3 linked regions of the Homo sapiens genome follow. The protein of the gene in region 2 interacts with the protein of the main gene of each other region in a pairwise test. Each region holds a gene or a part of one and is shown on either strand. Other genes may lie near its edges.

Region 1 (7,599 bases), on a different chromosome or scaffold from region 2:
TTCCACTTCTGAGTGTATACCCAAAACAATTAAAAACAGGAACTCAAACAGATATTTGTACATTCATGCTCAAAGCAGCATTAGTCACAACAGCCAAAAGCAATCCAAGTGTCCATCAAGGAATGAATGGATAAACAGAATGTGGCATATACATAGAATATTAGAATAGATTATTCCGCCATAAAAAAGAAAATTCTAACACATACAACAACATGGGTGAAACTTAAAGGCATTATGCTAAGTGAAATAAGCCAGACACAACAAGACAAATACTGTTATGATTCCATTTATAATACCTAGAGGTACCCAAAGTAGTCAAATTCACTCAAACAGAAAGTAGAATGGTGATTGCCAGGCACTGGGGGGAGAGGCAATGGGGAATGTACTTAATGCCACTGAACTGTATACTTAAAAGTGGTTACAATGGTAAATTTTATTTTATATACATTTTAATTCATTCACTGCCCCACCCCACCCCCCCCCCCAAAAAATGTAAAATTTAGAGCCAGACTCTCTGGGTTCAAACTCCACCTCTAGGTTATCTTATGCAAATTATTAAACCTCTCTTGTGCTCAGTTTCCCCTCTGCAAGATGGAAATAAGAACAGCAGTAATTACCTTATATCACAGAGTTGAGGGAATTAAATGAGTTCATACTTGTAAAGTACTTAGAACATAGTAAATGCTCAAGAGGTGTTAGTGATTTTTATTCTTTGGTGAGGGGGTGGGAGGTGTGGTTTCCAAAGGTTATAATTTTCATGACATTCTACACCCAACCCGCCCCCTTCCTCCCACCTGCTTCTTTCTTTCCCTTCAGCAGAAGCCTGGCCTAGATTTGGGGAGGCCCTTGCCTGCCCCAGAGGAGATTGGGAAGGCTCCAGGCAGTGGCAAGGGGCCAGCCAGCAGGGCAGCCCCAGCTCAATTTCAGCCCAGCTGTCCAGGTCAGGGACACCCAGCTGGGCCACCTCCAGAGCCACACCAGGCCCTGAGCTATTTCTGGAGGCCTCCCAGACGCTGGTGCCCTGGCCTGCCCAGGAGTCAGCCTTGCTCAGGGTGGCCTTGCACTAACATTAGGAAGGGAGAAGGGAGTAGGCTGTGGAATGGGTGTGGATGTGGACATCTAGGCCCACTGATACCAAGTTGATCTTCTAGGCCTAGGTCTGCACTTGAGGTTGCAAAATGGGGATGAAGGATTTTGCAGTGAGGACAGAATGGAAGATAACACATGCAAGGTCTTGGGGAAGGGCCTGGCACGCAGGATTAGAAAGGGGAGGGGGAGGCAGATCCACAGCCAAGCCCACTTCCTATCCTAGACTGCCCTCTGCCCAGGCCTGAGTGCACCATCATGACTTCTTAGCTCAGCCCAGAGACTGAAGAAACTTACTCAATGTCACAGAGCAACTCAGGGACAGGGCAGTGGTTTCATGATTTATAAATATGCATATATATACACATATATACATATATACACACATACATATATATACATATATGTGTGTGTGTATATATGTGTGTGTGTATATATATATATAGAGAGAGAGAGAGAGAGAGAGAGAGAGAGAGAGAGATGGGAGGACTGCACTTCATGAAGGCTGTGTGAGTTAACCTCCTGCCTGCAGAACACACAAATGGTCCATGAACGTTAGTTTCAGTCTTGATTACTGAGGTTTTGGGCATCCCTAAATTTTGCACTGGCTCAATTGCCTCAGCCCCTGCCTTGCATCACAGTGGGAGAAGATGATACATTTGCTAATAAGTAAAAAAACCAAAACATGCAAGAACCAGAGCAGGGCTTATGAAGTCAATAAATAATATTTGTTGAAAGAATAAAAGAAAGCCTTGTTTTCTTTCTGAGTCCTCGGAGATCCTGTCCCCCAAAGCCAGGGGCAGGCTCCAGAGGAGAGAGGATATGTAACTCCCTTATGAAGAGATTGAAGACTCTCAAAATGCATGATTCTGTGTGTCAAGGATTCTAAGATTGAAGCCAGAGGGACTAGGAGCTAACCACTGCATTGTCTGACTGTGACTTCGAAAAGGGGCTTAACTTCTTAGAACCTCCGTTTCCCCACCTACAAAAGGAGACTGACAATAGCAACCTAGGGGGCAGGGGGTGTCCCCAGGAGACACAGCAGGGTCTGGCCTAGGTCAGCTGCTCCACCTGGGGGGATTCCGGCCCCACTCCCAATTCCAAAGTCTCTGGTGACTAGTGGCTTTGGTTTAGGGACTGGCTCTATTCCCTTCCCCAAACTGGGGATGATTCCCAAGAGGCCAGCAGCGGCTCTGGGGGCTGGAGAATCTGCTGCCCCTGCATCCAGCCCAGAAATGTCAGTCCCGTCCGATCCCCAAAGAGTGGTCCTCTGTCCCCGTAGACAGAAAGGCGCCAAATGAGCCGAGTCCAACCCCGGACTGCGGAGAAGGAAAGACAGACGCCCAAAGGGGGTATCCCGAGGACAGTGTGGGGCGCGGGGATATGTGATCCAGCCAGGGGTCTACAGGTCCCTGCCGATAAAACGCTGGGAAAATGACTACCAGTTGCCCGTCTGGGCCTCTCAAGGCAAGTCCAGATGTGACTAGACTAGGGGGCTGCGAGGTGGGGCAGAAAGACTTGAACTGGATTCTCCGCCAGAGCTCGCCGGGCCGGGACACTTGCCTCTCTGAGCCTCAGAGTCCTCATCTGTGAAATGACACGCAGGTACGACGCGGGGAGAAAGCAGACAGCAGACGCTCGGGGAACGGGGCCCCCAGACCCGGGGTCGCACCCGGACCCACCCGCGCCCTCACCTGGAGCCCGCGCTAGGCGTGTCCCGGCTCCTCTCGCGCAGGCTTTGGAGAGGCTGACAGCTCGGACCCGGGCCGGTAGTGGCCGCTCCCAACGACGCCCAGGAGGCCCCAGCCCCGCGTGGGCACCTTTGGGGTCCCCTTTGGAGCTGCCCTCCGCGGTCGAGCTGAGCGGGTGGCCCTCACTGTCGAAGGCCCCCACCGCAGGGAAAGTCCCTGGGGCGCCGTGGAAGGGGAAGTGAGCACGCCGCCCCCCTTCACACCAGAATGGTTCGCCCCGGACTTCCTGATTGGTTCCTCGCTTCCGTTCGAACGGCGCGCCGCCAGGGTTGCCAGGCGACCGCTTAGCTTCCCCCGCCCGAAGGAGAGGCGCTGCTCAGCAGCTCCGCCCGCTCCTCCCAGCCGGCCCCACCTTCTTCCTGCCGCCGCTTCAGCCCCGGCGCCTGGTTCTTTCCCTTCCTCCTCCTCCCTCCCGCGGCCAGCTGGGACTTCCTCTAGGACCCCAGCTGGAAGAGCTCCAGTTAGAGGGCCCTGGCTGGTTCCTAGTCCTGACTTTGACGCTAACTCCCTATGTGACCCGGTGCAAGCCCCTTCCTTTCTCTGTTCTCCTAACTGCATGATGATGAGTGAGTTAATTTTAAAATGTGCATACCCAGCAGTCCCGAAATTTACAAAGGAAATGACCAAAGATATGAGCAAAGATTAATATTGCTCAGCCTTATTCATCATAGCAAAATAATGGAAACAACTTCAATGCCTCTTGAAAGGGATTGGTTATATAATTCCATCCTGTGGAGGAGCTAACTTAATTGAGCTTTTTGCATGCCGGGTAGCTTTACAGAACAAGTCTTGTCAAGGCTTATGACATAACCCTCTAAAAGTACTTTTAATTATTAACACTTTATTTATTTCTTTATCTTTTTCTTTTCTTTTTTTTTTTTTTTTTTTGAGATGGAGTCTCACTCTGTCGCCCAGGCTGGAGTGCAGTGGCAGGATCTCAGCTCACAGCAGCCTCAATCTCCTGGGGTCAAGCAATCTTCCCACCTCAGCCTCCCAAGTAGCTGGGACTACAGGTGTGCACCACCACACCCGGTATTTTCTGTATTTTTTGTAGGGATGGGGTTTTGCCATGTTGCCCAGACTGATCTTAAACTCCTGAGCTCTAGCAATTCTACCAACTCAGCCTCCCAAAGTACTAGGATTACAGGCATGAGCCACGCCACCTAGCCTAATTTTTCCCACTTTCTGATGAGGAATATTATGCAGCCATTAAAAGTGAAGTAGCTACCAGGAGCAGTGGCTCACACCTGTAATCCCAGCACTTTGGGAGGCTGAGGCGACCAGATCACCTGAAGTCAGGAGTTCAAGACCAGCCTGGCCAACGTGGTGAAACCTCGTCTCTACTAAAAATACAAAAATTAGCCAGGCGTGGTGCCACATGCCTGTAATCCCAGCTACTCAGGAGGCTGAGGCAGGAGAATAGATTGAACCTGGGATGTGGGGGATGCAGTAAGCTGAGATCATGCCACTGCACCCCAACCTGGGCAAGAGATCATCTCAAAAAGATAAAAATAAAAGTGAAGTAGCTAGAAGATATTTAAAGATAGGGGGAAATGCTAAGTATTAAACATTGGTTTATTTATGTTTTTTAGAGACAGGGTCTAGCTCTGTTGCCCAGGGTGGAGTGCAGTGGTGCAATCATAGCTCACTGTAACCTAGGTTGAAGCAATCCTCACACCTCAGCCTCCAGAGTAACTAAGACTACAGGCCCGCATCACCATGTCAAGCTACGGGTCTCGCTATGTTGCCCCAGGCCAGTCTAGAACTCCTGGCCTCAAGTGATCCTCCTGCTTTGGCCTCCTGAATTTCTAGGATTACAGGCATAAGCCAATGCACCCCTCCCAAATTTTTTTGAAGTACAGTATGCTTCAAAACACTATGTACAGCATAAATATGTATTAAATACATATGTATATGTGTATAATCATCTATAATCACAGCAGTTAATTTCTTCTTTGTGTTTTTGTGAATTTTCCAAATTTCCAATACTTGAACATGTCAAAAAAGTATATTTTTAGGGGGATTAGAATGAATTAACTCTAAGGGCCTTTAAGGTGAGGAAATTTTATAGCAGTCAGTCTGAATTGCTCAATTTGGAACCAGCTTCTCTGTTTCATTCCAGCTGGTGTCTTTTATTCTTTGTTTGGATTGCCAATAATTGAGAACTTACTGCGTAAACCCCTGGGTGGGCAGGGGAGGGAGCTAATAATATATCAATAGCTAATAATGATTGTACACTCTGGCATGGACACCAACCAAATCAGAGCCAACCACTGTCATAAACAGGGAGTCTGCTGTATCCGTGAGGACCAGCTAAATATCAATCCTGGCCCTGTGCCCTCTGCTACATTGTGTTAGGGCTTTATACACATCATCTCATTGGACTTCATGACTATCTAAGGCGAGAGATCCTGCTATTATTCCCATTATATAGATGAGAAAACTAAGGTCGGTCTGGATCCAGAATGAATTCTCTGATCCACTCTGTTACATTCCCTTGTAAACATGTGAGAACTGTTTGGGAGTAACAGTGAGGTAAGGCAAGGGGGATCCTGTGATCCTATAAGACACAAGAGAAGATTGAGCAGGTAGCTTCAGCCTAGGGAGACTTCTTTTTTTTTTTTTTTTTTTTTTTTTGAGACAGAGTTTCACTCTTATCGCCCAGGCTGGAATGCAATGGCACGATCTCAGCTCCCTGCAACCTCTGCCTCCCAAGTTCAAGTGATTTTCCTGTCTTAGCCTCCTGAGTAGCTGGGATTACAGGTGCCCGCCACCATACCCGCTAATTTTTTGTATTTTTAGTAGAGACAGGGTTTCAGTATGTTGGTCAGGCTGGTCTTGAACTCCTGACCTCAGGCGATCCACCCACCTCGGCCTCCCAAAGTGCTGGGATTACAGGCGTGAGCCACCACGTCCAGCCCTAGGGAGACCTCTTTAAGAAAAAATTACAGATATGAAATTAAGTAATAAAGTGAAGATTTGGTTAGAAAGAGACAAGAAACCACAATAAGGTGGCTCATGCCTGTAATCCCACCACTTTGGGAGGTCGAGGTGGAAGGAGTGCCTGAGCCCAGGGGCTTCAGACCAGCCTGGGCAACAAAGCGAGATCCCCAGCTCTACAAAAAAATTTTAAAAAGAAATTAGCTGGCCAGGCATGGTGGCTCATACCTGTAATCCTAGCACTTTGGGAGGCCGAGGCTGGTGGATCACCTGAGCTCAGGAGTTTGAGACCAATCTAGACAACATGGCAGAACCTCATCTCTACTAAAAATACAAAAAATTAGCTGGACGTGGTAGTGGGCACCTGTAATCCCAGCTACTTGGGAGGCTCAGCCAGGAGAATCACTTGAATCTGGGAGGCAGAGGTTGCAGTGAGTCAAGATTGTGCCACTGCACTCCAAGCTGGACGACAGTGAGACTCCGTCTCAAAAAAAAAAAAAAAAAAGGAAAAAAGAAATTAGTCAGGCATGGTGGCACGTGCCTATAGTCCCAGCTACTCAGGAGGCTGAGAGGGAGGATTGCTTGAGACCAGGAGGTTGAGGCTGCAGTAAGCCATGATTTCACCACTGCATTCCAGCCTAGATGACAGAGCAAGACCTTGTCTCCAAAAAAAAAAAAAAAAAAAAGAGAAATTGCACAAACGTTACAAAACGCAGAAAAATAACATTCTTTTTATTAGCTGCCTGTCTCAAACACATCTGTAATACTTTCCATAAACTAGCTGCTGGCTCCGTGTATACATTCAAACCTCTCCTTCACAGTCTTGTGGAACTGAGTGCTGTAGGACCATTCATATATCTTGAGATATAACCTCTGATCCTGAATCTTGATGCCACGACAAGTTGAGTCAGCTCAGTATGCTCGGTATGGATATATTCCTGGAAGCCATTTCAATACCAGGTCAGTTAGTAATAATTTTTCACAAAAGTGACTGGAAACAATATAAATATATCCCACTAAACCCAAAGTAAATGTTAAGGTCCTTTTAGCAAGATGCCCAAACTGCTCACACCAACCCCAACATCATCTGATGCAAAGGGAAGTTGGAATGAAAGGAGATAGTGGTTTTAACAGAATGAGGTTAAGATGCCTTACATTGGTAAATTTTACAGAAGCACATGGCCATGTGAACACATCACTAGGGTGCTTCCCAGACCTCAACTTCCCTGTTATTAACCAGGAATGACAACAATGGTGTTGACCAAATTCTTCTCTGAGATATGTAACTTTAATCAGGGTTGGGAGATATTTGAGATACCTGGATAAAGGCCCTGCTCACTGACCCTTGCGTCTTCAAGTTTGCCTCTGCCATGCACAGCCGAGAGCTTAAAATTAGACAAAACAAAAACCGAGAGGCCCATTCCTAGATTGAGAAAGTGAGGCAGAGGGCAGAAGGAACTTGTCAGGATCCCAAATTAGGCCATGTAAAGAGAGATCATCTGGGCGCACTCAGATTCTAGAATTGTGGGCATCTTTATGTGCCAACAGCATATTGGTCTTCTATTTTCAGGACTATATTAAGCACCTGGTGCCAATTCAGAGTATTCAAGTCCTCCCAGTCCTTCTCCTCCCCCACCATGGGGAGTGGTGAGAGAGAAGAAAAAGGCGGATAAACTGTCATTAACTACACCCAGATCAGAGAGAACTGGGCGGTCTGTATGGCCTTATCCTGACCCAGCACATGAGCAATGATAACATCTCGCCTTGTTGACAGGCCTATGGCTGGTTCTGCGTGTGGGTTTTGCCTCCTTCAGAACGTTGA
Region 2 (7,026 bases):
TGAGGGAGCGGGTGGACTGGAAATTTCTTTCTTCTCTTGCCAGGCAAGGGAACATAGTGCAACTTCTTTCTATCCCCAACAGTAACAAAAACCTTATAAAGAAAATGTTTTCATTTTTTTTCTTACTTTAAACCCCATTCTTAACAACAAGAACAACAACAAAAATGGAAAAGGGTTAAAAAACCTGTCTAGGCCACGTGTGGTAGCTCATGCCTGTAATTCCAGCACTTTGGGAGGCTGAGATGGGAGGATTGCTTGAGCCCAGGAGTTTGAGACCAGCCTGGACAACATGGTGAAACCCTGTCTCTACAAAAAAAATGCAAAAATTAGTCAGGCATGGTGGTGCTCGCCTGTAGTCCCAGCTACTCGGGAGACTGAGGTGGGAGCATTGCTTAAGGCCGGGAGGCAGAGGTTGCAGTGAGCTGTGATCGCACCACTGCACTCCAGCCTGGGCAACAGAGCGAGACCCTGTCTCAAAAACAAAACTGTCTAAAAGATATAAAGGGAACGAACATATGACGTTTTGTGGCAGTTTGAATGTCATGTTTATTGTATCCGCAGGGTCTCGATCAGTACCTGATATACAGTAGTTGCTCAGTGAATGCAAGCTGAATGAATGAATGTTTTCCTGATTTGATAGTAACTGGGTCTTTACCATTTCTTTTTTTTTTTTTTTTTGAGATGGAGTTTCACTCTTGTTGCCCAGGCTGGAGTGCAATGGCGTGATCTCGGCTCACTGCAACCTCCGTCTCCCGCGTGCAAACGATTCTCCTGCCTCAGCCTCCCGAGTAGCTGGGATCACAGGCACCTGCCACCATATCCAGCTAAATTTTGTAGTAGAGACGGGGTCTCACCATGTTGGCCAGGCTGGTCTTGAATTCCTGACCTCAGGTGATCTGCCCGCCTCGGCCTCCCAAAGTGCTGGGATTACAGGCGTGAGCCACCGCACCTGGCCCCTGATCTTTACCATTTTCAAATGTACTGTATCTTATGGTGCTCCCAAAAACTGTATGAAACATTAACTTAATGAAAGGGGGAGGTATTATTTAGTGATTGTATAAGGCCCACACCTAGATAGCAAGAAGGCTGGAACTCAGGTTTTCAGACTCAAATTACACTCTCTATTTTGTTACTTTTTAGCTATAAAAATAATTTTATGGCTCCATATTCCCTTTGCAAATAAGGACACCTAAAATTTAAGAGTTTCTTAAAATTTCTTTTCTTTTCTTTTTTTTTTTTTTTTGAGATAGATTCTTACTGTGTCACCCAGACTGGAGTGCAGTGGCAGGATCTTGGCTCACTGCAACCTCCATCTCCCAGGATCAATTGATTCTCATACCTCAGCCTCCTGAGTAGTTGGGATTACAGGCACCCGCTGCCAGGCCTGGCTTTTTTTTTTGTATTTTAGTCTAGATGGGGTTTTGCCATGTTGGCCAGGCTGGTCTTGAACTTCTGACCTTAAGTGATCTGCCCTCCTTGGCCTCCCAAAGTGCTGGGATTATAGGCATGAGCCACCGCGCCTGGCTGTTTCTTAAAATTTCAACTCCCTGACCTGCATATAGTCATGACAGTGTTTATAATTTGTATTTGTGGATTCACGTATTTGTGGATTCGCTGTGTTTCAAAGGATCCACCTAATCATTGTTTTCAGCAAAACCAAAAATGTGGACAGTTGTGTAATTTATTATTTGCCTTCTTGATTTCCCACCAAAATCAAACTACCTGTAAATACAGGACACATTCAGATTTCCAAAGAATAGAAATGGTCTAAAGTTATAATCTGTCAGAGTGTGTCTTACCTCTTAGCTAAGCTACCTCTCCTCCTGAGCCTTTGGTAGTTCATGGGAATAAGGAAATGAGACAGTATTTTTGCTTTAGAAGTAGGGTAGTCAAGAAGTCTTGAGAAACGTGAAATTGTCTTCTGAACAACCCACACTTTAAAAAAAATTGCGCTGAAGAATTTTACTTCAGTAAGTAAGTCTATTAGACTCCCCATAGCAGGCCTCAACTTCACCCTTTCGGTTTTCTCTTTCTTATTCAAATATTTTTGTGCCTCAATTATTTGGTTGTGTCTTATTGCTAGAATCAACAGTAATGAGCTGCACTCTTTTATTAGTGTTTCCATTAGAAGTTTAGAGCTAGATCACTGGGGTAAAAGAATAGTGGTTTATGACATAATAGGTATTTTGACTCTACTAGCCTTTTTCTTTTTTTTTTTTTGAGACGGAGTTTCGCTTTTGTCACCCAGGCTGGAGTGCAGTGGTGTGATCTCGGCTCTGCAACATCTGCCTCCTGGGTTCAAATGATTCTCCTGCCTCAGCCTCCCGAGTAGCTGGGATTACAGGCTCCCGCCACAGTGCCTGGCTAATTTTTTGTATTTTTAGTAGAGACGGGCTTTCACCATGTTGGGCAAACTGGTCTCAAACTCCTGACCTCAGGTGATCCACCCACCTCGGCCTCCCACAGTGCTAGGATTACAGGTGTGAGCCACCACTCCTGGCCTATACTAGCTTTTTAAATGCTGATTTTTAATTCCCGTATTATGGGGCATAAACATTTTCACCAGACATTTTGCCTAGGGCAAGGTGATTTACACATCTTTTCTGCATGTCTGATATGTTCTGTTCTTACACGATATTAATCCATTGGAATTTTGTGTTTGTGTGAGCAAGATTCACAAAGGCATATTCCTTTAAATGAATTTCAGAAGAAAAAGTTTCCAGTCCTATAAAGCCTCATATTTGAGTAGTATACTCCTTATCCCATTTCTTCTTCTGGCCAACTCACAAGATTTGGAATTATTTGGAAAGCAGTGACACAAAACATTTTTGAAAAGAAAGGCTAAAAATATCCAATAATGTGGTTATTCTTTTTAGACTTCCTTTGGCAGTCAGTGCATGTCATACGGTTAACATTCTTTTTCTGGGAGAAAAAAAAACTGAGTCTGACCAAATACTTTCTAGTGTGGCCTGATCACCAACTCTTAGCCCTGGGCATTAGCCCTCGCATTTTCCACCCCCAAGTCTCCAAGCATAAGTAGCTGTCTTTCAATAAAGGCCCCAGTTTGAAACGTGTATTTCACTCCTAATTTGGCCAAAGGCCATTGGCTAGCAGTCCCTCTTCAGAGGGGATGGTGAAAAGACAGTAGGATATATGATAAATGCATGCAAAGGAGCTTCTCTTCTATATGACAAGTCTTGGCTAACTTAGCCTCTTTGCATCTTCCTCTGTTTGAAGAGCTACACACATTTGCCTTGTAGGAAGTTTTTATTCTCATGGCAAGCAGGCATTACCTCTATTACAAGGCCCCGCTTATTGTTCACCCTGTGATGTAAGAGCTTTTAGGACTCCAACAATATTAGCCTTCTCTTTAATTCCTTTCAGGCCCCATCGCCATCTCAGAACCATGGCCTGGAGTTGCCGCCCTCCATTCTCCTTAACATGTCGACTCAGAAAAGTCTTAAAGCCCGCTGTTCTTTCCCTTCATAGCAAAAATTATAATTTATCATTATATTTTGTTTAATGAGGACAGAGACTAGCATTTTTTACCTACTACATAATATAAATGCTTGGCACTTAAGGTGCTTGAACAAATGAAAGCCTGCTCATTTTGGATGGATGTCCCAGTATTTGGTACTGTTAGTTTTCCTTTATACACAAATGTACACAATGTCTCCCCCTTTCCAAACTAGACCATAAGCCTTCACAGTATCTTACAGGTAGTAGTGATTTAAAATGGGATGATATTGGTAATATCTGTGATTACTGGTTAAGCATAACTCACTTTATATACTTTCCCCTTGTTTTAAGAAAACTCATCATTTATTCATTAATATATTTAGTTGACAATTTATTGTGTGCCTCCTATGTGCCAGATACTGTTCTAACCTCTGGGGTTAGGGTGGTGAACAATACACAGTCCCTGGCCTCTTTTGGCAATGTTTTTAAAAAGCTTACCCAATAGGCAAATGAAAATATCTCTCTAATTTTTCCCTAAAGAGCTTGCTCCTTTAGTGTATTTGAGGAAACTTTGAAATGTAGTTTTTCAGGAACACACCTATTTTGTAGTGTGGTAAAGCTATACATTGATTGATTGATTGGTTGAGACGGAGTCTTGCTCTGTCACCCAGGCTGGAGTACAATGATGCGATCTCCACTCACCGCAACCTCTGCCTCCTGGGTTCAAGCAATTCCCCTGCCTCAGCCTCCCCAGTAGCTGGGATTACAGGTGCGTGCCACCACATGGGGCTAATTTTTTATATTTTTAGTAGGGATGGGGTTTCACCATATTGGCCAGGCTGGTCTTGAACTCCTGACCTTGTGATCTGCCCGCCTCGGCCTCCCAAAGTGCTGGGATTACAGGAATGAGCTACCGTGCCCGGCCCTATACATCTGTTTAGATGGGAATGTTGACGTGGAAGTGTATCACTTCCTGTTTTACGTCCCTGTGTAAAACAATCACATTTCCTTATTGATGACTGTCTTCCAACAGAAACGTAATCATCTTCAAGGTTAGAAAATGTTTTTTAAATAACTTCAACCAGCGTTAACCAAACTGGTTAATTCACCAAAATGTTAACCAAAATTAACCAAATCAAATTTGGTTTATTTTCCAGGTCTCTTTTTTCTTTTCTTTTTTCATTTTTAAAGAGATGGGATCTTGCTATGTTGCCCAAGCTAAAATGCAATTGTTATTCACAGGCATGATAATAGTGCCCTATAGCCTCGAACTCCTGGGCCCACATGATCCTCCTGCCTTAGCCTCCTGAGTATTCCAGGTTTTTCTTAATAGTTTAAACAGGTAGTTCTGGTTTGGCTATCAGTAGTGTTGTCAAATAGCTTTTGTTTGCTTAATTTTATTTTTATTTTTTTTGAGACAAGTCTTGATCTGTTGCCCAGGCTGGAGTGCAGTGGCGTGATCTCGGCTCACTGCAACCTCCACCTCCTGGGTTCAAGCAATTCTCCTGCCTCAGCCTCCCAAGTAGCTGGGATTACAGGGGCATGCCACCATCCCCGGCTAATTTTTGTATTTTTAAAGTAGAGACGGGGTTATACCATGTTGGCCAGACTGGTCTCAAACTCCTGACCTCATGATCTGCCCTCCTTGGCCTCCCAAAGTGCTGGGATTACAGGCGTGAGCCACCACGCCCGGCCTTTTGTTTTTGTTTTTGTTTTTTTTAAATGGAGAGGGCCAGATAATGCTCTAGGAAGGATGTCAGAACCCATAAAAAATGATGAGTATTTGAAATATATGTAAAAACTTAAGTAACAAATCAGAAAATATATTCTGAGATAGAAGTGACCATTCTAAAACTGTGCTGTACAATACAGTAGTCACTAGCTACATGTAGTTTTTAAGCAATCGAAACGTGGCTAGTCTGATTGAGATTGCTGTGAAAAATACACACTGGATTTTGAAGATTAGAAATGTACCCTAAAACTTAAAGTATAATAATAAAAAAAAAGAAAGAATGTAAAATATGATAATTAAAAAATTGCAATTACATGTTGAAATGATAATATTCGATAATATTTGAGTTAAGTAAATTTAATGTTACTTATTTTTTAGCATGGCTATGGAAAACTTAAAATTATGCATGTGGCTCGCATGATATTTTTGTTGAACAATGCTGTTTGCTGAAGCAGGGCTGGCAGCCCTTGCCAGAGGTTTGAATCTCCATTGTCTTGGTGGCTGCAGATGGATGGATGTGGGGGTACCAGCCTGGTGTGTTGGGAAGATTTTTCTTTGTGAAGGGGAACTTGCCCTTTACTGTTGGGGATAGTTTCTTCTCAGCCTATCCAGGGACACACATACCAGCATTTTGGGGTTGTGAAACTTTTGTGTGGGGAACTTCCCTTTTTTTTTTCCACATGAGCCAATAAGATAAAACTGACCTAATGGCATTCTCGGTGCAACTCTGCCTTCAGTTTAAGGACAGAAGAGGGCTCATGTTTCATAGAGTATTAAAGGAGCAAGCTTAATATTTTGCATTTTGTGGACTGTAATTGCTAACTGCTGCTACATGATTCAGTCAGCTAAGAATAATTTACTAATTATATATTGCCTCACTTGGTTCTTTTTCCAGATGCTAAACAAGGTGAGATAATTAGAGGAGGAAAAAGGGTGAGTTTGGGAATTGGAGACCAGAAGGATGGATTTAGAAGATCTTGGAGTTAACGGACTTAGAATATAGTCAGCAAAGAGTTCACTTAAAATTAGTGCAGGTTGCCAGGCGTGGTGGCTCACGCCTGTAATCCCAGCACATTGGGAGGCCAAGGCGGGCGGATCACGAGGTCGGGAGTTCAAGACTAACCTGGCCAATATAGTGAAACCCCGTCTCTACTAAAAATACAAAAATTAGGCAGGCATGGTGGTGCATGCCTGTACTCCCAGCTACTCGGTAGGCTGAGACAGGAGAATCGCTTGAACCTGGGAGGTGGAGGTTGTGGTGAGCCGAGATTGCGCCACTGCACTCCAGCTTGGGCAACAGAGTGAGACTTTATATCAAAAAAAAAAAAAAAAGAAATTAGTGCAGGTTGACTGTGTGTGTGTGTGTGTGTGTGTAGTTTTCTGAATTCATTTTTCAAGTATTGAATATTCACAATGATGCTAGACTAAGTGCTAGAGATTTGGTGGTGAACGAAACAGATTGAAACCTGCCTTCATGGGGGGCGTATATAGGTTCGTCTGACTAGTCTAGATAAGTGAATTTGTGTAGTAATTGTTTTTTTGTAACTGGCTTAGTTTACTTAGCTTGATGTCATCAAGATTTATTCATGTTGGAGTATGTGTCAGAATTTCCTTCCTTTTAAAGGCTGAATAATATATCCATTGTATGTATATATCACTTTTTGTTTATCCATTGATTCTTCCATAGACATTAGGATTGCTTCCACCTTTTGGCTCATGTGAATAATGATGCTGTGAACAGGGGTGTACAAATATCTCTTAAAGACCCCTCTTAAAACTTTTTGCGATATATACCCATAAGTAACAGTTGCTATAGAATCATATGGTAATTCTGT
Region 3 (7,026 bases), on a different chromosome or scaffold from region 2:
TATTGATCTTGGTAGCCAAGAATAATTACCTCAAAGTAATTTTGTAATCCTCGTCATTTGTCCTTAAAAACTTGTTTTCCTTTACTCCTCTGAATATGTACATAGTTGACTATAGCACAGGCATTCCCATTGCAATGCCCTATTCCCAAATACAGATCACTTCCTTTTAGAGAGCCTCTCTCCATTTGTCATTTAAATGAACAGACTTACCTCGCAAAAACAGAAAGAAACTGCTGGGATTCCAGAATATGCAAGGAAAGGGAAAGCAGCATTGTCTAAAGTGAGTTTCTCACTGCAAAGACAAAGAATGTGTCTTTAGAAAGTGTTTTAAAGAATAGACTGTTCTATCGTGCTAGTCCCCCCATCCAAAATAAATTCTTTAGCTGAATATCTTTAGGTGTAAGTAAGTTCAATGCAAGGACAGATTTAGATTCTACCTAATGTAGTAGGTAGAATCTCTGCTTTTCTATTAGTTTGTTCATTCACTTTTCTCAACTTACACTTTGCTGGCCCAGTTGCTGTCCTGATATAGAAATTGCCCAGTAACCGGATGCTTCACCTGTAAGATAAGAAATTATCATTAAAACTAACCTTTTGGAACTTATTTATTCAGGCTAGTCACTAACATGTTACTCTATAACAATTTTTAAATAAAAAACTTGTATTATATCTTCTTGAAAAGAAATTATTTATGATAGTTAAAACAATCTCAACTTTAAGTTATTACTAACTAGGCTCATGTTGTCAGTTCCTTTAGTTATGGTGAGGAAAAAATGTTTTCTTCTTAATTAACATTTTAAAAGTGGGCCTAGGCCGGGTGGGGTAGTTCACAACTGCAATCCCAACACTTTGGGAGGCCGAGCTGGGAGGATCACTTGAGCCCAGAAGTTTGAGACTAGCCTGGGCAACACAGCAAGACTTTATCTCTTAAAAAAAAAAAAGGAAAAAAAAATGAATAAAAGCTGGGCGCGGTGGCTCACACCTGTAATCCCAGCATTTTGGGAGGCCAAGGTCAAGAGATCATGAGGTCAAGGGATTGAGACCATCCTGGCCAACATGGTGAAACCCCGTCTCTACTAAAAATACAAAAATTAGCCAGGTGTGGTGGTGTGCACCTGTAGTCCCAGCTCCTCAGGAGGCTGAGGCAGGAGAATCGCTTGAACCCAGGAGGTGGAGGCTGCAGTGAGCCAAGATCGCACCATTGCACTCCAGCCTGAGTGCTGGAGGAAGACAGAGGAAGACTCCATCTCAAAAACAAACAAACAAACAAACAAAACCATGGTGGCTTACCCACAATTGTAAAAGCCCTCTCTGGGCTTCACACTATGCCTATCTTGTTTCTGGTTTCTTCCTTCTAGTGCATCTTATGCCACCAACCTAACTGGCAAATTCATGATCACCTTGCTTGAGATCCTATAATCCCTAGTATCTCTTGGATCAAGGCCAATGTCTGCTATCTGACCTGTTTCTAACTTTACTCACTCCAATATACAGCCTCTAATCCCATTAGGCAAATATTTTCTTTTTTATTTATTTATTTATTTTTTTTTTAATTATACTTTAAATTTTAGGGTACATGTGCACATTGTGCAGGTTAGTTACATATGTATACATGTGCCATGCTGGTGCACTGCACCCACTAACTCGTCATCTAGCGTTAGGTATATCTCCCAATGCTATCCCTCTCCCCTCCCCCCACCCCACATAGGCAAATATTTTCTTTCACATGCTCTCCCTCATTCAAAACTATGGTAATTGTTTATTCAATGAATATTTCCTCCGGCCTTCTCAAAGTATAGTTCAAGTTGATTTAAGCCTTCCTTAGCATTGTGACTCTATAGACAATCCCCTGTGGGCCCCTGCACTACAGCTTAGGCCTCATGGCATTTTGTTATATATTCCTAAATAAACAACATATTCTTTAAGATTGGAGCCCTCATCTCATATGGTTCAATAGGCAAGTATCCCTTAAATAACGCTGCTATAAAATTTATTCTCAATTCCTATTTTTTGTTACTGACTACGGTTTACATATCAGTGTTTTTTATCTCAGGTTGATTCAACAAAAATTAAGTCATACATTTTTGTAATGAGGTATATACTCACATTTTGCATTGTTTTCTCAATAAGCGTATACAACAGTGGGCTGGCAGAAACCTTGAAGTTGCTGGTACCTGAAAATAAATTGTTTTATCATTGCCCCTTCTCCATTCCGATAATTTTCACACTGCTACTTCTACAACTATAAGTACTTGACAAATAAGACAGTAATCTAGATCAGTGGCCCTGTGCAACAACTATCCCATTCATCAAGTAAACAAAAGTAATTTTGGTATCAAGCTCTTTAGCAACTAAGCTAACTTCACTCAAGTGGGCTCGTACTACTCCTTGAGTTTGCATACTTTAATCCAAGTCACCTTTTTTAAAAATATCAGAGCAGTTAGGCCGGGCACGGTGGCTCACGCCTGTAATCCCAGGACTTTGGGAGGCCCAGACGGGTGGATCACAAGGTCAGGAGATCGAGACCATCTTGGCTGGCACAGTGAAACCCCGTCTCTACTAAAAATACAAAAAATTAGCCGGGTGTGGTGGCGGGCACCTGTAGTCCCAGCTACTCGGGAGGCTGAGGCAGGAGAATGGCATGAACCCGGGAGGCGGAGCTTGCAGTGAGCTGGGATGGCGCCACTGCACTCCAGCCTGGGTGACAAAGCGAGACTCCATCTCAAAAAAAAAAAAAAAAAAAAAAAAAAAAATCAGACCAGTTTTAGGTTCAGCAGCAAAATTAAGAGAAAGGTACCTAGAGGTCCCATAAATCCACTGCCCCCACACATGTGCAGCCTCCCCCATTAGCAATTTCATGTTTAACTTTCTGGTTCACCCAGGTTAGAGCTATACATAGTATGCTTGCTATACTCAGCACATTCTGCGGCAAACATACAACAGGGAAATAACTAACCTAGAGAGGTTTAATTGTAACTCTTTCCTTTTTTCCCCCATGTAGACATTTCACTATTCTCAGCTCATCAGCTACATCTGCACTTTCTTTTTTACCCCATTCCTGTTGAATGTACAGCTGCACTTTAAATAACATTCAAACCCTTTTGTCAATTTTCTGCTGCCAGTGAACATTCAAACTCTTCTAGAAGTTTCATTATCCAATATTTCTATCAGTGATGCCACAACGTAACAGGATGTGAATTACTCTCTAAGTACCATTCTATATGGCATAGTTTAGTTTCTTCTCACCTCAATATAGTCCAGACTTATGGTCCTAAAACTTTAGTCCATCAGAATTACCTGTAGTGCTTGTTAAAGTTTTTTGTTTCTTTGTTTGGGTTTTTTTGCTTCAGGATACTTTGTCCTTAAGAAAATAATAGGTTTTTATTCCCCAAGGGTTGCCAAAAAAAAAGCCCAGTTTTTTTGTTTGTTTTTTTGAGATGGAGTCTCGCTCTGTCGCCCAGGCTGGAGGGCAATGGCGCCATCTTGGCTCACTGCAACCTCTGCCTCCCGGGTTCAAGTGATTCTCCTACCTCAGCCTCCTGAGTAGCTGGGATTACAGGTACTCGCCACCACACCCGGCTAATTTTGGTATTTTTAGTAGAGACGGGGTTTCACCATGTTGGCCAGGCTGGTCTCGAACTCCTGACCTCAGGTGATCCGCCTGCCTTGGCCTCCCAAGTGCTGGGATTACAGGCGTGCACCACTGCGCCCAGCCCAAAAAGCCCAGTTTTTAGACCAACACTCCCATTTCTGACTCAAAGGTCTGGGGTAGACATGACAGTTTGCATTCGTAACAGTTCCTAATGCTACTCATCTGGGGGCCACACTGAGAACTACCCACTGTTCTAGACAAGCAATTGTGCTCACTGTGTAACTTGACAGACTATTTAAAGGAAGGTTAAGATACAGGCTGAGGGCAATGGCTCATGCCTGTAACCGCAGCATTTTGGGCAGCTGACATAGAATGCTTGAACTCAGGAGTTTGACACCAGCCTGGGCAACATGGCAAAACCCCATCTCTACAAAAAAAATTAGCCAGGTGGCTGAAGTGGGAGGATCACCTGAGCCCAGGAGGTCAAGGCTGCAGTGAGCCAAGATTGTGCCACTGCACTCTAGCCTGGGCAATACAGTGAGACCCTGTCTCAAAAAAAAAAAAAAGCTTTCTTCCACTTCAAAGTAGTTTATCTGGCCAGGCACAGTGGCCCACATCTGTAATCCCAGGCCGAGGCAGGCAGATCGCCTGAGGTCAGGAGTTCGAGACCATCCTGGCCAACATAGTGAAGCCCTGTCTCTACTAAAAATACAAAAAATTAGCTGGGTGTGGTAGTGAGCACCTGTAATCCCAGCTACTCAGGAGGCTAAGGCAGGAGAATCGCTTGAATCTGGGAGACAGAGGTTGCAGTGAGCCGAGATCGTGCCATTGCACTCCAGCCTGGGCGACAAGAGCAAAACTCCATCTCAAAAAAGTTTACCTGAATTCATACACAGCTAATGAAAGGGATACTTACCAAGAACCGCTTTATCCAGATTAATATAAGTGAAAGCCTTTAAATGCAGGGACGAAAGGTATCCCTAGAAGAGAAGGGAAAACACTAATAAGTATAAATCTGTTTATTTATCACATACAGTAGCATTAGGGATTCATTTTCAATTCTGGACTCTACTGAGACTAAACGCAAAGGCAAAAGTGGTAAAATCAAACCTATAAAAACATCACTTCTGGACAACAGCCTAAGCCCACAAGCTCGTGTCCAATATGGGAAGGGATGATAAAGAATACCTCTAGCCATTCAGTGGCACCAACCGATCCAAAGTCTCCAGCACTCCAACTGGCAAAGATAATGCTTCTGCTGGGCTGAAACCCATCTGAAAGAGAAAAAAGTTAGCTTTACCTGAGGAAAGGTTATACACAGACAAGGATGGAAGGTATCCCACTTAAGATGAATCAGAAGGTCTAATTCCAAGATAGCAGATTCCAAAATCTTTTTTTTCTGAGCCAAAAAAGAAAAAAAAAACTAACAAAATCTTTTTTTGAGACCCCAGGTAAAAGAATAAAAGAATAGGAATAATTTTTTTTAAAGTAACCTACAAAGAGCAAGATAGGAGATCTGCAAATAAGATTTTGAGTACATAGCAGGGGCCAGTAGTCACCCTTTCACAATTTCATTCTTGGAGTTCCTTAACTTCTGGACCCAGAGATCATTGAAAACAGTGTAAGCATGATGATGCACATCTTGAGAAAAATCTTCAGAGGTAAATCCAAACATTGGATTTTTAAAAAAATAATTCTAAAATAAAATAAAAATTCACAAATTTAAGTTACAAGAAGAGTTTGCAGAGAAACTATATTTGTGACAGCACCTTTTGAGGTTACATGTATCACACTGCCCTCCATCCCTCCCACTTCCCTCACTGTATCTTTTTCTCCATTAATGTACTCTGTATTAAAGTTAAGCATTGCAGTTTGCCCTAAGACCCAAAGATTCAAGAATGTGACGTGATTTTGAATGTGTGGGTGGGTAGGAGTGTGAAAGAGTGGAAAGTAGGACAGAAAGGCTCAAAAATAAACAAAAGAGGCAGGGCACGGTGGCTCACTAGCAGCATTTTGGGAGGCTGAGGCGGGTGAATCACTTGAGGTCAGGAGACTAGCCTGGCCAACATGGCGAAACCCTGTCTCTAGTAAAAATACAAAAATTGGCCGGGTGTGGTTGTGGGTGCCTGTAATCCCAGCTACTCAGGAGGCTGAGGCAGGAGAATTGCTTGAAGTCGGGAGGCAGAGGTTGCAGTGAGCTAAGTGAGATCACACCACTGCACTCCAGCCTGGGCAACAGAGTGAAACTCTGTCTCAAAAAATGAATAAATGAATAAACAGAACAAAATTTCAATAGCTGTTAGGCCTCAGTACATGAGTAGAGAGGTATGCTACTGCTTTCAAATAGATTGCTTAGGGACTATGATCCACCTTATCACTCTGGATCCACCACACTAAGCACTAGGGCTCAGTAACTCCACTGTCTCAAAGAAACTGGTGATTTCTAGCACAGTTAAGACACTTTATGGAAAGCTGTTTCAAAGGAAAAGGCAGCTACAACAAAAGACAATCTGCCTTGTATTTAAGAACTAGAGTCTAGCATGAGAACCACAGGAATGCAGGCAAAGTGAGCAAAGCACAGTATAACATCTAGAACTGTATGCAGTGCACCAATATTCAAAAGAATCAAAATTTGTACTCTACCTTTTAAGACCATATCTGAGAACATCTGGGCAAGTTTCAATAGGAGAGCTGTGCCTACACCGGATTTTGCAGCTCCAGGGCCCCATGCATCTCTCTGGGCCCCAACTACAACATAGTGATCTTTAAAAAAGAAAAAAGAGGAAGAAAGAACTTATATAATCAGCTTCTAAACTTTTCTAGAATTAGCACATCAGTAGAAAGGTAAAAGCACAGTATATGTATTAAGGATAAAAGAGCCTTACTTCAAATCTGACTAAAAACTCTGGGAATTAAAAATTCACATGAGAATATTAATTTTACCTTACTAGTAGAGCTACTTTTTTCCTACACTACTAATTAAATTTACTGACTACTTAAGTCCAAGGACTTATTTCTTAGTAAGTGTTGGCTGTTTGATTGCATTTAAAGTTAACTCCAGGGACTGGCAAACTACAGCCCGCATGCCCATTCACTACGCACAGTCTGTGCCTGTTTTCTTGCTCCCACAGAGTTGAACAGCTAAAAGAGAGACTGTATAGCCTGGCAAAAGGTTTATTATCTGCCCCCTTAAGAAATTTGCTTATCACTGGTCTAGTCAATAACTTAGAATAGATTTTCTAGTCATAATGGTCAATTTTTAACAAGAATTTCCTAGGGCCTTATTACCTCCCAATAAAACTGACACATAGGCTGGGCGCGGTGGCTCATGCCTGTAATCCCAGCACTTTGGGAGGCTGAGGGAGGCAGATCACCTGAGGTCAGGAGCTCTGACCTCATGGAGCCTGACCAACATGGAGAAACCCTGTCTCTAC

Evidence for each region. Proteins that work in one complex are often made in the same cells at the same time.
Region 1: the proteins of RASSF3 (region 2) and FAM110A interact in binary tests that used the Homo sapiens proteins (3 or more experiments, as listed by UniProt).
Region 3: the proteins of RASSF3 (region 2) and TFRC interact in binary tests that used the Homo sapiens proteins (3 or more experiments, as listed by UniProt).

What each region holds. Positions count from the first base shown.
Region 1 is NC_000020.11:829,133-836,731, reverse strand, and holds the start of FAM110A (protein FAM110A), read right to left. Parts: upstream 3,018-7,599; 5' UTR 2,781-3,017; intron 680-2,780; exon of another isoform or gene 1-679.
Region 2 is NC_000012.12:64,613,473-64,620,498, forward strand, and holds part of RASSF3 (ras association domain-containing protein 3), read left to right. Parts: intron 1-7,026.
Region 3 is NC_000003.12:196,058,074-196,065,099, forward strand, and holds part of TFRC (transferrin receptor protein 1), read right to left. Parts: intron 6,356-7,026; coding exon 6,236-6,355; intron 4,867-6,235; coding exon 4,781-4,866; intron 4,573-4,780; coding exon 4,509-4,572; intron 2,175-4,508; coding exon 2,107-2,174; intron 560-2,106; coding exon 501-559; intron 293-500; coding exon 211-292; intron 1-210. UniProt on the Homo sapiens protein: Cellular uptake of iron occurs via receptor-mediated endocytosis of ligand-occupied transferrin receptor into specialized endosomes. Endosomal acidification leads to iron release.